Linked DNA regions of Homo sapiens. The protein of the gene in region 1 interacts with the protein of each later gene in a pairwise test. Each region holds a gene or a part of one and is shown on either strand. Other genes may lie near its edges.

Region 1 (3,500 bases):
TTGATTTAAGCTGTATTAGCGTTTCCTGTTGTGTCCAGCAGTTTACAACATGTATAATTACAAGTACAAATGTACAGAACTCTCTAGCAGACTATTTTTTCCTACCACTTATGTCTAAAGTATAATAAATTGTGCCAATTTGGGGTCCTGTATTTTGATTTAGCATGACCTTTGGTTTCCAATTAAAGAGATTTTTCTTCCCTCTTTTTCTTCCATTTACCTAGCATTAGAATATGAAGAAATATATCTAATGTTCCTATAATTTTGGGATTATTTTATCAATGTAATTAAATAAACTTCAGTGGACCCGCTTTGGAGAGTATGGATAACATCATTCAGAAACTTTTATTTTTATATCTCTTTTTTGGTGGGCATGGATTCTTTTGTAAGGGAGATACTGAGGCCGGCCACCTATGTGATATTTTGCTCAACTTGTGTGAAATCTGGTGCACTTTGGTCAACTGGAAGCACAAAGTGTTCTAAGATGAAAAAAATTCTTCATTCCCAGATGTTCCTGCATCGGAAAGTGGCTGTGAGGTCTCAGAGTACAGCGTGGAGATGACGGAGCCCGAAGACGTAGCCTCGGAAGTGTACCATGGCCCAGAGCTGGAGTGCACCGTCGGCAACCTGCTTCCTGGAACCGTGTATCGCTTCCGGGTGAGGGCTCTGAATGATGGAGGGGTGAGTATAAGCCCATACACCATAACCAGAATCAGAATGCATAATCAGAACCCAAAGTGCTAGCACTTCTGTCTCTAGCCTCCTGAAATTTTTGACAGTCTTGATGCAACCTTGACAACCATTAATGCAGTGTCTGTAAATCTTAATTCTGAGTTGATATTGTTGTGATTTCATATAGACCCAGCATTAGAAGTTTTCTGTTTCTTTTGTCCTCATATCATTCTATGAAGACAGCACTCAAGGTTAATAAGGATATCACCCTGTAGATATTTTCGACAGTTTTTGGAAAATTTCCTATTCTATTGACTTTATCAGTTCAGGGAAATTAGGATTAGATAATAGTTCTAATAAAAGTTTTATACTGTCTTGTCTAAATGAACCAGCAACATCTTAGGTCAGTTTTTACAACTAGAGAAGGGTAGTGGCCAGGGACACCAGCTTGTTTTTGTTTTGTTTCACGTGAAAACTACAGGACTCTCTCCTTCTATTGCTCCATTTGGAGTTGTCAAGTTGAGCTATCAAAAATTGAGAATATATATGTCTATGTTATATCCATAAAGGTTGTTGTCCTTTTTTTCTTTGAAATTGCCAAATGATGTGGATTTAGGGGGAGATGAATAATGAGCAGTGGGAGTCCCAGTAACTGTGAGGCTTTTGGGTGGGCTCAGAGATTGATGAAGCATAAAAGGGCAGAAGCGTGTGGGTAAAGCCAGCTAAATGCCCCGTCCAAAGTGCCAGTGGTTTGTGTAGATGGGCTCCATGCAAATAAATAGAATTAATTAATTGATGATTTTTTAAAAAAATAAGACAGCCCAACTTGCAGTGACTTTTTGTTTTAAGTGAAAGCAAGTTTATTAAGAAAGTAAAGGAATAAAAGAAGGGCTATTCCTTAGGCAGAGTGCCCAAAACTGGATTTCTCCTAATTCTCCAATAGAAAAGAATTTCAGACACAACAATGATACTTAAGTGAAAACAAAAAAGTCTGAACATTAACGCCTATGTACCTGAACTTATAATCATGTAAGCGAAAAGAAGATGGATAGTGATGAGCACACTGTTGTGTCTACCCCATTCTCTCATCAACTTTTCAGTTACTATCTGCCACAACAAAGATAAATGTGCAACTGGGCTGGTGTGAGCTGTACTTTTCTCAGCCCTTTCACTGATTTATCCTATAAAGAAACTATCTTCAGCTTGGGTTTATTCCTGTTGTATTAGAAATTAACCATATATATCGCTGTAGTCACCTTCTGAGGTCCATTTCAGAGAGCTTCCCCAACTCCCCAGCATCTTTGCATGTTATGTTGAGAGGTGGTTTTTTGTTTCCCCCCTCCCCGCCGTCTTTTTTCTCTCATTTTGACAAGGACAGTCATATATTTTGTTAGCCTGGCAAGTTTTTACTCTGCTCCAAACCTTTGAAGTATCAAATATGCCACCATTAAAATGGGTGGTTCAGGTGGCTGTGACTCTCTCAAAGTGTGGTAAGTCTCTAGCAATTCCTGGCTCTGAGCAGTGTGGTCACTGATGGTAACATCAGGATTGCCGTGGATACCCTTGAATAGGTGAGGTGATGGGAACACACTGAGAAAACATTACAGAAGCATTTATTTTCAAAATGGAAAATACCGGTAACTAGAAGAAATACCTAGAATTTGATCACCAACAATTCCAAGTATATTTTTATTCATTAAAAATTAAACTGCAGTGGGCATCTGACTTAGTTTTCTTGGATGTCCTCTGAGAAATATGAAAGCAGATTGCCCTGTTTTGTCAAAAATCAGCATATTTTTATTTCATGTCCCAAGAAAGGGAAAATATTTTGTCAACCAACTAATTATTTTACAATTAAAAAAATGACAGACATCTACTACTCAGGGACTGTATATAGGAGAAAAACTTACACACATTGAATTGAAAGTGAAAATCATTGGGTAATATTTGTTAATTAGTTGTGTTGATGATGATGTTAGCCTAGCTTTTATTTGGTTATAAGCTTTTGTATGCACACACATTCACAAACACATACACGCATATATACATACGTGTGTGTGCGTGTGTTTTCTTTCAGTATGGTCCCTATTCTGATGTCTCAGAAATTACCACTGCTGCAGGGCCTCCTGGACAATGCAAAGCACCTTGTATTTCTTGTACACCTGATGGATGTGTCTTAGTGGGTTGGGAGGTAAGTCAGGCATATTCTGCATCAACTTCTGTTTCTTCTACTTTACTCCCAAATACAAATACCAATTATAAGGAAGCTGCAAATCCAAAATGCACATATAGATGATTTTTTTTTTTTTTTTGCTCTGTGTACTATAGTAATCACCCTTGGCACTTGCCACTTGCTTATATTATTTAGGGTTGTGGAAGTTTTACTGTAGTCAAAACTGAGAGGAAATGGTTTCTCATGCCTTTCTTTTTGTAAAAAATTTTATTTTATTTTACTTATTTTATTTTTTTGTGTGACAGAGTTTCAATCTTGTCACCCAGGCTGGAGGGCAGTGGCACAATCTCGGCTCACTGCAACCTCTGCCTCCCTGGTTCAAGTGATTCTCCTGCCTCAGCCTCCTGAGTAGCTGGGATTACAGGTGCCCACCACCATGCCTGGCTAGTTTTTGTACTTTTAGTAGAGATAGGGTTTCACTGTGTTGGCCAGGCTGGTCTCGAACTCCTTATCTTAGGCAATCCACCCACCTCAGCCTCCCAAAGTGCTGGGATTACAGGCATGAGCCGCCGCACCTGGCCCTATTTTATTTTTAAATTTCTAAATCTCAAAAAAAATTTTGTGGGTACATAGTAGGTATATATATTTGTGATCG
Region 2 (3,500 bases), on another chromosome or scaffold:
TTGTTGTTTTTTTTAATTCTGAGACAGGGTCTTACCCTGTCGCCCAGGCTGAGTGCATGGCTCCATCACCACTCACTGCAGCCTTGAACTCTTGGGCTCAAGTGATCTTCCCACCTTGGCCTCCCAAAGTTCTAGGATTACAAGTGTGAGCCACTGTGTCTGGCCCATAATTTTTGTTATTGTGTGGAAGTTCTTAACTTCCAGTCCATGACTCTTTCTGATATTTCAGTTTAGGTTTACGTGAGCATTTTTAAGGTAGAAGGTACAAAGATTTTTACCAAATTCTCACACCAAAAAAAAAAAAAAAGTTATAGGAACAGGAAGAAGGATCAAGGGAAACATTTACTGTACTAGACTAATAGTAAAATAGTAGTTTCCAAAATTTTCAAGATACAGATTGCTTTGGCAAAGCAAAGATGCCTATCCTTTTCTGCTTACCACAACAAAACAGCAACTTTGTCAGGATATAAAAATGATACTATTTGTTAATGAGAACCCCAAAAGGATAAAAATTCATATCCAAAACAAGGGACCAGTGTTCCACAAGTGACTACCCCTCATAAACCATCTGGAATGTTCTCCTTGTACACTAAAAAATTAGACATGGCTACATAAAATGAACTGGGAAATGATAAAAAAATTAGACATGTTGAGATTCCATTATGTAGGATCGACAAGGCATTCTTTCTATACACCACCCCTTGGGATGTGTAAAAGCTTTGTTATTCAGTACCTATGGCTTTCATGGTGGTTTTCTGGGTTCTGTTTTATTTCTTCCTTTAAGTATGAATAGTAAGATAACTACAATTATCAAGAATACAGAAGGTTAAAAAAAAAGGATAGGGTAAACCACATGCTATAGTAAAAGTAGAGATTCACTAAAATCTTTTTCACTACAAATGATCTGTAAAATTATGGGTAAAATCCAAAAATGAATACCTAAACTTACTTTATTTTAGCGGATTACATAACCAGATCACACTCTAGACTGTTAAATATAAAACAAAACTAAAACTGAAGCAAATATTAAAAAGAAGTGGTTTGGACACAGAAAGAGAAAACAGGAACATGATATGCAGTTACCTTCTAACTTAGCTTTCCTTTCCTCCTTTGTTCAATTCCTGGGCCTTTTTGAAGGAGGGGCTGGTTTGGGAATTACAGTTTATAAGCAAAGATGCTTAAATATCAAGAGAACCAAAAAATCAAAAATACCATTTCCCTCCCTTTTTTCATTCTCTGATCCCAAAACATACAATCTATTATTTCTTTAGCTTATTATATAGATCATTCACTTTAGAGAAATTTATTTTAATCCAACACCTATTTATTCAACAATACGCTGGTACTATGGGTCATTTAAATAACTGCTCTTAAAAACTGATGTAGTAGTGAAAATTTTACCTATTTAGCCAGAAATAATGAACTGGTTCTAATGTTAGTTACTTTTCCTACTGAAGGATGGGTACCTTTATGCCTAATTATTTCCCCAATGTGCTCTAAGCATAATACCACTATATTAGAGCCAACCTGAAAAAGAGAAACAGAAAGATTAAATTGCCTTCAGATCATAGAACTTTCCGCCTCAGGCAATGCTCTCTCTGGACTGCTACTCTTTTGAAATTATTACTATTTCTTATTTCATTGATATACAACTTATGTAAGGTACATAAATTTTAAGTGTATAGCTTAATGGATTTTTTACATATGCAAACATCCAAGTTATCACTATCCAGATCAAAGATGCAGAACATTTCCTTGTGCCCCTTTCCAGTGAATACTTCCTTCCCTTCACAACTGGTATCACTATTTTGATAGTTCAGTTTTGCCTATTCTTGACCCTCATTAAAAAATATGAACGAATATAGTGTCTTCTCTTTTATGTCTGTCTTTTTCTACTCAACAAAATATTGTTTAGATTATCCAATTGCATTTATAATTTAATTTTTTATATCTGTGTAGTATTCCTTTTCACAAATACACCATTTTTTTCTGTTGATAGACATGAGTTGTTTTCAGGGTTAAGCTAGTAAGAATAAAGTTGTTGTGAACATGTTTTTGGTGAACATATGCAATCATTTCTGTTGTGTACATATCATGGAGTGGAATTTACCTGGTCATAGGTTAGGGGGGCATGTTTATCTTTAGTAGGTACTGCTAGTTTTCCAGTGGCTCAATTAACTTACACTCTCACTAGCAATAATTAAGTTATCCACATCCACTGGGCAAGGTGGCTCACAGCTATAATCCCAGCACTTTGGGAGGTTGAGGCAGGTGGATCACTTGAGGTCAGGAGTTTGAGACCAACTTGGCCAACATGGTGAAAACCGGTCTCTACCAAAAATACAAAAATTAGCCAGGTGTGGTGGCACATGCCTGTAATCCCAGCTACTCAGAAGGTTGATGCACGAGAGTTGCTTGAACGTGAGAGGTGGAGGTTGCAGTGAGTCGAGACCGCACCACTGCACTCCAGCCTGGGTGACAGAGCAAGACTCTGTCTCAAAAAAAAAGTTATCCACATCCTTGCCAACTCTCACTGGCAATTTGGACGTCTTCTTTTGTGAAGTGACTGTTCAAATCTTTTGCCTCCTTTTATTTTATTTTTTTGAGACGGAGTTTCTCTCTTGTTGCCCAGGCTGGAGTGCAATGGTACAATCTCAGCTCACCACAACTTCCACCTCCCAGGTTCAAGCGATTCTCCTGCCTCTGCCTCCTGAGTAGCTGGGATTACAGGCATGCGCTGCCACACCCGGCTAATTTTGTATTTTTAGTAGAGAAGGGGTTTCTCCATGTTGCTCAGGCTGGTCTTGAACTCCCGACCTCAGGTGATCCACTCGCCTCAGCCTCCCAAAGTGCTGGGATTACAGGCATGAGCCACCACGCCTGGCCTTTGCTTCCTTTTAAACTGGATTCTTTCTTTTACTCTGCAGAAGTACTTGATATATTCTGAATATGAGTTAGATATATGTATTGTAAATATCTTCTCCCAGTCTGTGGAATGCCTATTTGTTAATCATGTTTTTTGATGAAAGGAAGTTCCTAATTACAGTGGAGTCCAATTATTCATTTTTTTTAATGGTTAGAACTTTTTATGGGCAACTACTTTTTTGGGGGAGGGTCGGCAAAGTCTAAAAATTTCCTCTCTTGTAAAAAAAAACTTTTTTTTAATATTACCTTTACCTACTTCTAAGATATATTTGGAATGGCTCACAGTAAAACCATAACCCCATTAAAATAAAAGTTATAAACAACCATTACCACCGCTACCAAGGGAAAGGGAAGGTGTAGAAGTTGTAATGAGAAAATGGAGAACTGTTAACAATGACAGGAGCCTTAGGCAAAGGAAGCTACTGAAATTGAGCCTAAAACTTAGCTATCAGTTTCTTGGCAAAATAAAATAAGATTTCTTAAGTCACAAAAACAAAAACAAAGGACAGATTCAAACCTGGAAAGTTTCTTTCTTTTTTATTATAATATTACTTGTTAATACTTTAAATTTACTT
Region 3 (3,500 bases), on another chromosome or scaffold:
CACTAAAATCTGACATACTCAAATCCTACAGTTGATGTATAGGAAAAGACAGCCCTCAGTATATGTGGTATTACATCCTGAGAATACAGTATTTTTTGTTCGGTTGAAAAAAACCTGCATATAGGTGAACTTGTGCATTTCAAACCTGCTTTGTTTAAGGGTCAACTGTATTTACTATCTGGTCGTTTAGAAAAATGAAAAACAGCCTGGGCAACATGGTGAAACCCTGTCTCTACAGAAAAATACAAAAATTAGCTGGGCATGGTGGCACACACGTGGTGGTAGTCCCAGCTACTCTAGGAGGCTGAGGTGGGAGGACTGCTTGAGCCTAGGAGGTCAAGGCTGCAGTGAGCTGTAATCACACTGCTGCATTCCAGCCTGGGCGACAGAGCGAGACCCTGTCTCCTCTCCAAACAAACAAACAAAATGCCAACCCCTGCTCCAGGCTTCAACAACTGGTGGCTCTTTAATGGCTTGAGATACTCTCTAGTGGCCATTTCATTCTGAGCCTGTCTAGACCCTGCTGGGTCCATAGGTTCCTTGTGATTTGTGGTGTTGTGGACTTTTGTTGTCATCTCCCTCATCAGCCTAAAAGTGCCTGTGTCCAATAATGAACACTCTGCCCTCAGCAGTGACTAACCCCTGACCTCTTTTGAACCACAATTAGGCCCCTTAGCCTCTCCCTCCCTCCAAACCCCAGGGTTCTTGGGTTTTCTGGAAGTGGGTTGAGCTGTGACCCTATGTCCCTTCTTTTAGGAGACCATCTAGCTGGCTGCCCCCGACAGTGAGTGTGTTGGCTCTTGTGAAGCGGGGGGCACCTCCCGAGATGCCTTCTCCTCAGGAGCTTGAGGCCTCAGCACCCAGGATGGTGCAAACCCATAGGTAAGGAGGATTGGGGAGAATGCACTAGTGTGTAACCATGTATGCTATCACAGCATGGATGGGAGGTAGTGTAAAAAACCCTGGGCTTTAAAATAAGACCGTGCTTAGTGTGCATTGCAGCTTTTCTATTTATTATCGATGTGTCACTCATTTGAGCCTTGGATTTTTTTTTTTTTTTAAGAGACAAGAGTCTTGCTCTGTCGCTCAGGCTGGAGTGCAGGGGCACAATCTCGGCTCACTGCAACCTCCCCTTCCTGGGTTCTCCTGTCTCAGCCTACTGAGTAGCTGGGACTACAGGTGCCCACCACCATGCCCGTTTAAGTTTTGGAATTTTTTTTTTTTTGAGATGGAGTCTAGCTCTGTCGCCAAGCTGAAGTACAGTGGCATGATCTCGGCTCACTGCAATCTCCGCCTCCCAGGTTCAAGCAATTCTCCTGCTAAGCCTTCTGAGTAGCTGGGATTACAGGCACATGCCGCCACGCCCAGCTAATTTTTGTATTTTTAGTAGAGACCGGGGTTTCACCATGTTCGCCGGGATGGTCTTGATCTCCTGACCTCGTGATCCGCCCGCCTTGGCCTCCCAAAGTGCTGGAATTATAGGCGTGAGCCACTGTGCCCAGCCAATTTTTGTATTTTTAGTAGAAACGGGGTTTCACCGTGTTGCCCAGGCTGGTCTAGAACTCCTGACCTCAGGTGATCCACCCACCTCAGCCTCCCAAAGTATTGGGATTACAGGCATAGCTACTGCACCCGGCCAGGATTCTTTCTATAAAAAGGATATGATGCAATACCTTTTTTATGGTTATAGAGACTAAACATAATTTTTTTTTTGAGACAGAGTCTCACTCTCGCCCAGGCTGGAGTGTAGTGGCATGATTTCGGCTCACTGCAACCACGCCTCCTGGGCTCAAGTGATTCTCCTGCCTCAGCCTCCAGAGTAGCTGGGATTACAGGCACCTGCCACCATGCCTGGCTAATTTTTGTAATTTTAGTGGAGATGGGGTTTTGCCATGTTGGCCAGGCTGGTCTTGAACTCCTGGCCTCAAGGAATCTGCCTACCTTGGCCTCCCAAAGTGCTGGGATTACAGGTGGGAGCCACTACACCTGGCTACTAAACTTTTTTTTTTTTTTTTTTGAGACAGTGTCTTGCTCTGTCGCCCAGGCTGGAGTGCAATGGCATGATCTCGGCTCACTGCAACCTCCGCCTCCTGGGTTCAAGTGATTCTCCTGCCTCAGCCTCCTGAGTAGCTGGGACTACAGGCGCCTGCCACCATGCCCAGCTAATTTTTTATATTTTTAATAGAGATGGGGTTTCACCATGTTGGCCAGGATGGTCTCGATCTCTTGACCTTGTGATCCACCCACCTCAGCCTCCCAAAGTGCTGGGATTACAGGCGTGAGCCACCACGCCTGGCCTAAACATTTTATAAAAGCATTTGGCGGCCGGGCGTGGTGGATCACCTGAAGTCAGGAATTCAAGACCAGCCTGGTCAACATGGTGAAACCCCGTCTCTACTAAAAATACAAAAATTAGCCAGGCGTGGTGGTGGTGGGCACTTGTAGTCCCAGCTACTCGGGAGGCTGAGGCAGGAGAATTGCTTGAACCTGGGAGGTGGAGGCTGTTGAGATCACACCACTGCACTCCAGCCTGGACAACAGAGACTGACTCTGTCTCAAGAAAAAAAAAAAAAAAAAAAAAAAGTAGATGGAGTAGTAGGAGATCCAAACACCAAACAGGTTTTGGTGATGGATTGGATGTATGGAGTGAGATGCCCAGGTTTTTACCAGGGGCAAGTGTGGGGAGAAAGTGGTGCTGTTTACCACTATAGGCGACACGAGGAGGAACTGGTTTTGAGGGTGAGTCATTTCATTTGCCTGTGTTGAATTTGAAGCACCATTGAGAAGTGCAAATAGTGTCAAATAAGCAGCTGGAGTGGGTTTGCCACTCAGGAGAAGGCTGGGGCCCCAGATAGAATCACCAAGTTGATGAATGGTTCTCAAGTCCTTCCAGAGCCCAGTCAATGTCCACTGAGCCAAACCAACAAGGGCACTCTAGAGGTGACGCCTGGGGACGGCTGGGCAGCCCCACCTCACCTCATCCCAGTATCTTCCTCTGGCTCCCCTCAGGGCAGTGCGGGCTCTCTGTGATCACACTGCTGCAAGACCTGACCAGTTGAGCTTCCGGCGTGGGGAAGTGCTGCGTGTCATCACCACAGTGGATGAGGACTGGCTCCGCTGTGGGCGGGATGGCATGGAGGGTCTGGTGCCTGTGGGGTATACCTCCCTTGTTCTGTAGCCCTGGGACCCTTTCCTGCGTATGTGTCTCCTTCCTGTCACCTGGGAATGGAATGGCCAGTGAACACCATCCCAGAAGCATTTTCCCTCTGCAAAATGACGTTTCTTCCCACGTCTGTTTCTGCTAATATTTAAAATAAACTTTCCTTCTTCCCTCCTATACCCACCTGTAAGGTGAAATCTGCTCTTCTTCCAAATATATAAAAAAGGAATTGCCCTCCAGGTAATCCCTTTCCTTTTTCCCGTCTATATAAGGGAATGTCTTCCTTCCTATCTATCTGCAAAATGGAAATCTAGACCTCCTTCTTCATCCATAAGTGGAC
Region 4 (3,500 bases), on another chromosome or scaffold:
TTTGACCAGTGTGTTCACAAGGTAACTTTCTGGTGAAGATCTACACTATCTTCCACTGTTACCACTTGCCACTATTGAGGGATTTGTTCCTCACAAGGATTTGGGAATGCTTATAGTATAGGTAAAGATAGTGTCTTTAGAGAGAACTATTTATATGTTCATATGGGTGCACATTTATATGTGACATCTTGAAGTTCAGCGGATCCATGGAAGATATATTTTCTAAAGGGCTTCATTATCTAACAGGAATATTCTCAGATTATCTCTTTACTGTATTAAATTATTTCATTGGTGGTTGTGGATGTAAGTCAATAGTGGGAAATGATGAACGGATTTGTATTGACTGTGGCAGCTATGCAGTGGGTGGATGAAAAGAAGCACCAAGAAAGGGTATCCTTGATATATAACTAAGCTTGATTTATGAAGTAAAATTGGGAAAGACCTTTAGAAAATTCCCATTTGGGAGACAAGATAGTTTGGAGGAATGAACAAGGATCTTTGAGAGGAACTTGAGTAAAGTTAAGTTGGGTGATCTTGGATGAGGGAACTTTCCTCATAAACTGTAGTTTCTTTCTGAGTAGACTTGGAATTGATTAGTTGGATGGTGATTATAAGAATGATATGTATATTATATGTAACAGTAAAATGCCTTCTGCATTATTATTCTTTCTCCCATATATACTGTAAATCATTGTTTTGTGTTCCACCAACAGATACTTATTGAACCTCTATTTTGTCTAAATTACTGTTGTGAACTGCTTCACAAAATCAACAATTACAGCAGGGTTGAATGAATGTATGTGTTGGGGCTACAAAGACATCGAGCATCAATCCTTGGGCTCAGTATATTCCTAATCTAGTTGGGGAGATAACCCATACACATACGATGGCAATTAACAAAACAAAGCCATGGTTAAGTGTGGGTGAATGGTAGATAAATGCTGTAGACACTGTGATGGCATCTCTGGATGTGGTGGTAAATGTGTTCCTGTGATAGGACCCGGCAGATGGGGTTGCTCTTTTAAAAACCCTATGAAGTGTTGATATACAATGTTAAGTGCAATTGTATATCGAGTGCCTTCTGAAGATCAAGCATTAAGCTAGATGCTTTATATTTATTTATTCATCCAAAAAATACTTTGAGTGCTTTCTGTATGCCCAGGTACTGTTCTAGGCACTGACTATTACCTCTCATACTTTCACTAACCTTGAGCACTGGGTATTATTTTTTGTCTTTTAGAGCAAACTGGTGCTCAGAGTTACTTAGTAACTTGTTCATATCATGCAGTTTGAAAGGGGTGGAATCAGGGAAAATGATACTGGCATATGATTGATGTGTCTTTAGGTTTTTGATTTTCAAAATAGTAACACATAGAATATTTTAAAAACAACACATTTCCAGATTAAGGTATGTGCTCTTTTACATTGGTTTACTAAGATGAGCAATAATGAACAGGTATAAGAAAAATAGATGGGAAGAAAAACTGGCTTTACTTTCTTCTTTTTTTTTTCTTTTTAAAACCAAGAATTGAGAAAAGACCAATTATTGAATTATTCTGAAAAGAACACCTTGGTCTAGCCCATGGCCTTGAAATGATCACAAACTGTTGATAAAACATTACTCAGAATAGGCTTGGGAATCACTGGGCTTACTTATATAAAGATTTCATTTGTTCTCTATAGGAAGAGACCCAATAAGGTAGTAGGACTAGTTATGAAAAATATATATATAAAGCATCAATCAATGAAAGAATGGGACCTGCATCTACCAAGGCAGGCTCAGTAGGTTATGAAATTTACTCTAAAGCCAGGATTGTAAAAGGAAAGAAGAAAATTAAGAGAGACAATGGTGGGGAGAAAATGGAGGGGTGGTGTGGTAGAAATGTGTCCTAGAATCAAAGTAAAAGATGAAAACAGGGAATATGACTAAGATCCTGAGCAAGAGTGCTATAATTACTGGTGTTATACACTGTAACCAAAAGAGTATGTCCCATGTTTGCAAAATGAGGTGAAGAGTCTATTTTGACTCATCGGGTGGTTTTGTATTGCAATGGGAATTATATCTCTCTGTTATATGAGTTACGGTGGATCAGGCAGTTCTTCAGTTTGACTTAGAAGGATGCCATTGTAGGCATTGATTACAAGGTAATGGGCTGTTTCTCCTTTGTTGAAGTTCTATTTAAAACATTTTTTGAGCGTATACTATGTACCAGACCTTTTAAAGGCTGGACCATAGCTTTATATTACATAAATTTTGTGGAATTAAGCTAATTTAGTTACTAGAACATTTTGGGTATGATTGCTTAGGTACCAAAATCAGTTGATTATTTTTCTCCATCCATTACACTGTTGAACCCTGAATAGTGAATTGAAATTCCTAGGTGGTCAATCTGGTCTGGTTGTTAAATGATCTTAGTAATTCACCGTATTGGTTTGTGGTCTAATTGGGTGGACTTGAGGCTTAGCTGTTCAGTCTATTGATAAGGAGGTTGGCTACAAATGGTTATCAAGATAAGCCTGTAGACTTCTGTGAAAGAAAAATCTAGCCAAATCTAATTCATTACATGCAAAAGAGAAATCAAGTGTAAATCTTAGCTTTATGTTCTATAAAAATATGAAGCAAAATAAGAAAAAAGATACTACTTTTAGCATTAAAAATTATGAAGTAAAATAAAAAAGAACAAGAGAGTACTTTTAGTTTTTCTTTTAAAATTTTAGTTCATGCATATTTAGCATATGCATAGAAATATCTGTGTCAGGTTCTTGTTCTTTTTATGGCCCTTGAATCCCTCTAATGGGTGTAAAATTTCTATTATTACCCTTCTAGTATAGTATGTTGATGATATGCTAGCACTTTAAAAAATATGTCTGACTCAAATTGAGGTATAGTCTGCACGTTGAACATGAATTTAAAATAAAAGCATTTAATGAGAGTCTATTAAATATGCCATAGGCCCATTAATGTCAGTTTGTGATTTCACTTTCTGTGTACCTTTTTTTTTTTTTTTCTTGAAAGGCATTTTTCATTTTCTGTTCCTTCTTTAGAGGAAGTAAGTAGGTTAGGCCACAGAATCTCAAATAATTCATCCTTCTTACAGTAACACAGAAGGGCAGGAAGTTGAGATTTTGTAAAGGTTACCTTTGGTGACTACCCTTTCTTTGCACATGATCTCCATGGCAGACAAGGTAGCAAATCAGAGAGACCATTGCAACATTATAAATAGGATCATTCACATTAAAATATGACTAGCTGATAAAGGGACAGTGTTTTTGAGAAAATATCAATAAGATGGAACCGCTGTAATGACTGATTTCATGTTTAAAGGCAGCATGGATTAGTTCACACTCAGGTGTCTCCTCTGCAGGGATGGATGAGAACAGAAGACCCAACTTCTCAAGGATTTGTTCTTGATGCTGCTAAGATTTCAGTTCTCACATTGAAATAATGATCTAGAGTTTTTCCTGCCTAAAATCTATGAACTTAGGTCCTTAGGACAGAT

Evidence for each region.
Region 2: the proteins of FNDC3B (region 1) and TOX4 interact in binary tests that used the Homo sapiens proteins (3 or more experiments, as listed by UniProt).
Region 3: the proteins of FNDC3B (region 1) and RUSC1 interact in binary tests that used the Homo sapiens proteins (3 or more experiments, as listed by UniProt).
Region 4: the proteins of FNDC3B (region 1) and L3MBTL3 interact in binary tests that used the Homo sapiens proteins (3 or more experiments, as listed by UniProt).

What each region holds. Positions count from the first base shown.
Region 1 is NC_000003.12:172,343,578-172,347,077, forward strand, and holds part of FNDC3B (fibronectin type III domain-containing protein 3B), read left to right. Parts: intron 1-508; coding exon 509-681; intron 682-2,749; coding exon 2,750-2,863; intron 2,864-3,500. UniProt on the Homo sapiens protein: May be a positive regulator of adipogenesis.
Region 2 is NC_000014.9:21,480,195-21,483,694, reverse strand, and holds part of TOX4 (TOX high mobility group box family member 4), read right to left. Parts: intron 1-3,500. UniProt on the Homo sapiens protein: Transcription factor that modulates cell fate reprogramming from the somatic state to the pluripotent and neuronal fate. In liver, controls the expression of hormone-regulated gluconeogenic genes such as G6PC1 and PCK1.
Region 3 is NC_000001.11:155,327,394-155,330,893, forward strand, and holds part of RUSC1 (AP-4 complex accessory subunit RUSC1), read left to right. Parts: intron 1-756; coding exon 757-882; intron 883-3,009; coding exon 3,010-3,178; 3' UTR 3,179-3,500. UniProt on the Homo sapiens protein: Associates with the adapter-like complex 4 (AP-4) and may therefore play a role in vesicular trafficking of proteins at the trans-Golgi network. Signaling adapter which plays a role in neuronal differentiation.
Region 4 is NC_000006.12:130,025,081-130,028,580, forward strand, and holds part of L3MBTL3 (lethal(3)malignant brain tumor-like protein 3), read left to right. Parts: intron 1-3,500. UniProt on the Homo sapiens protein: Is a negative regulator of Notch target genes expression, required for RBPJ-mediated transcriptional repression. It recruits KDM1A to Notch-responsive elements and promotes KDM1A-mediated H3K4me demethylation.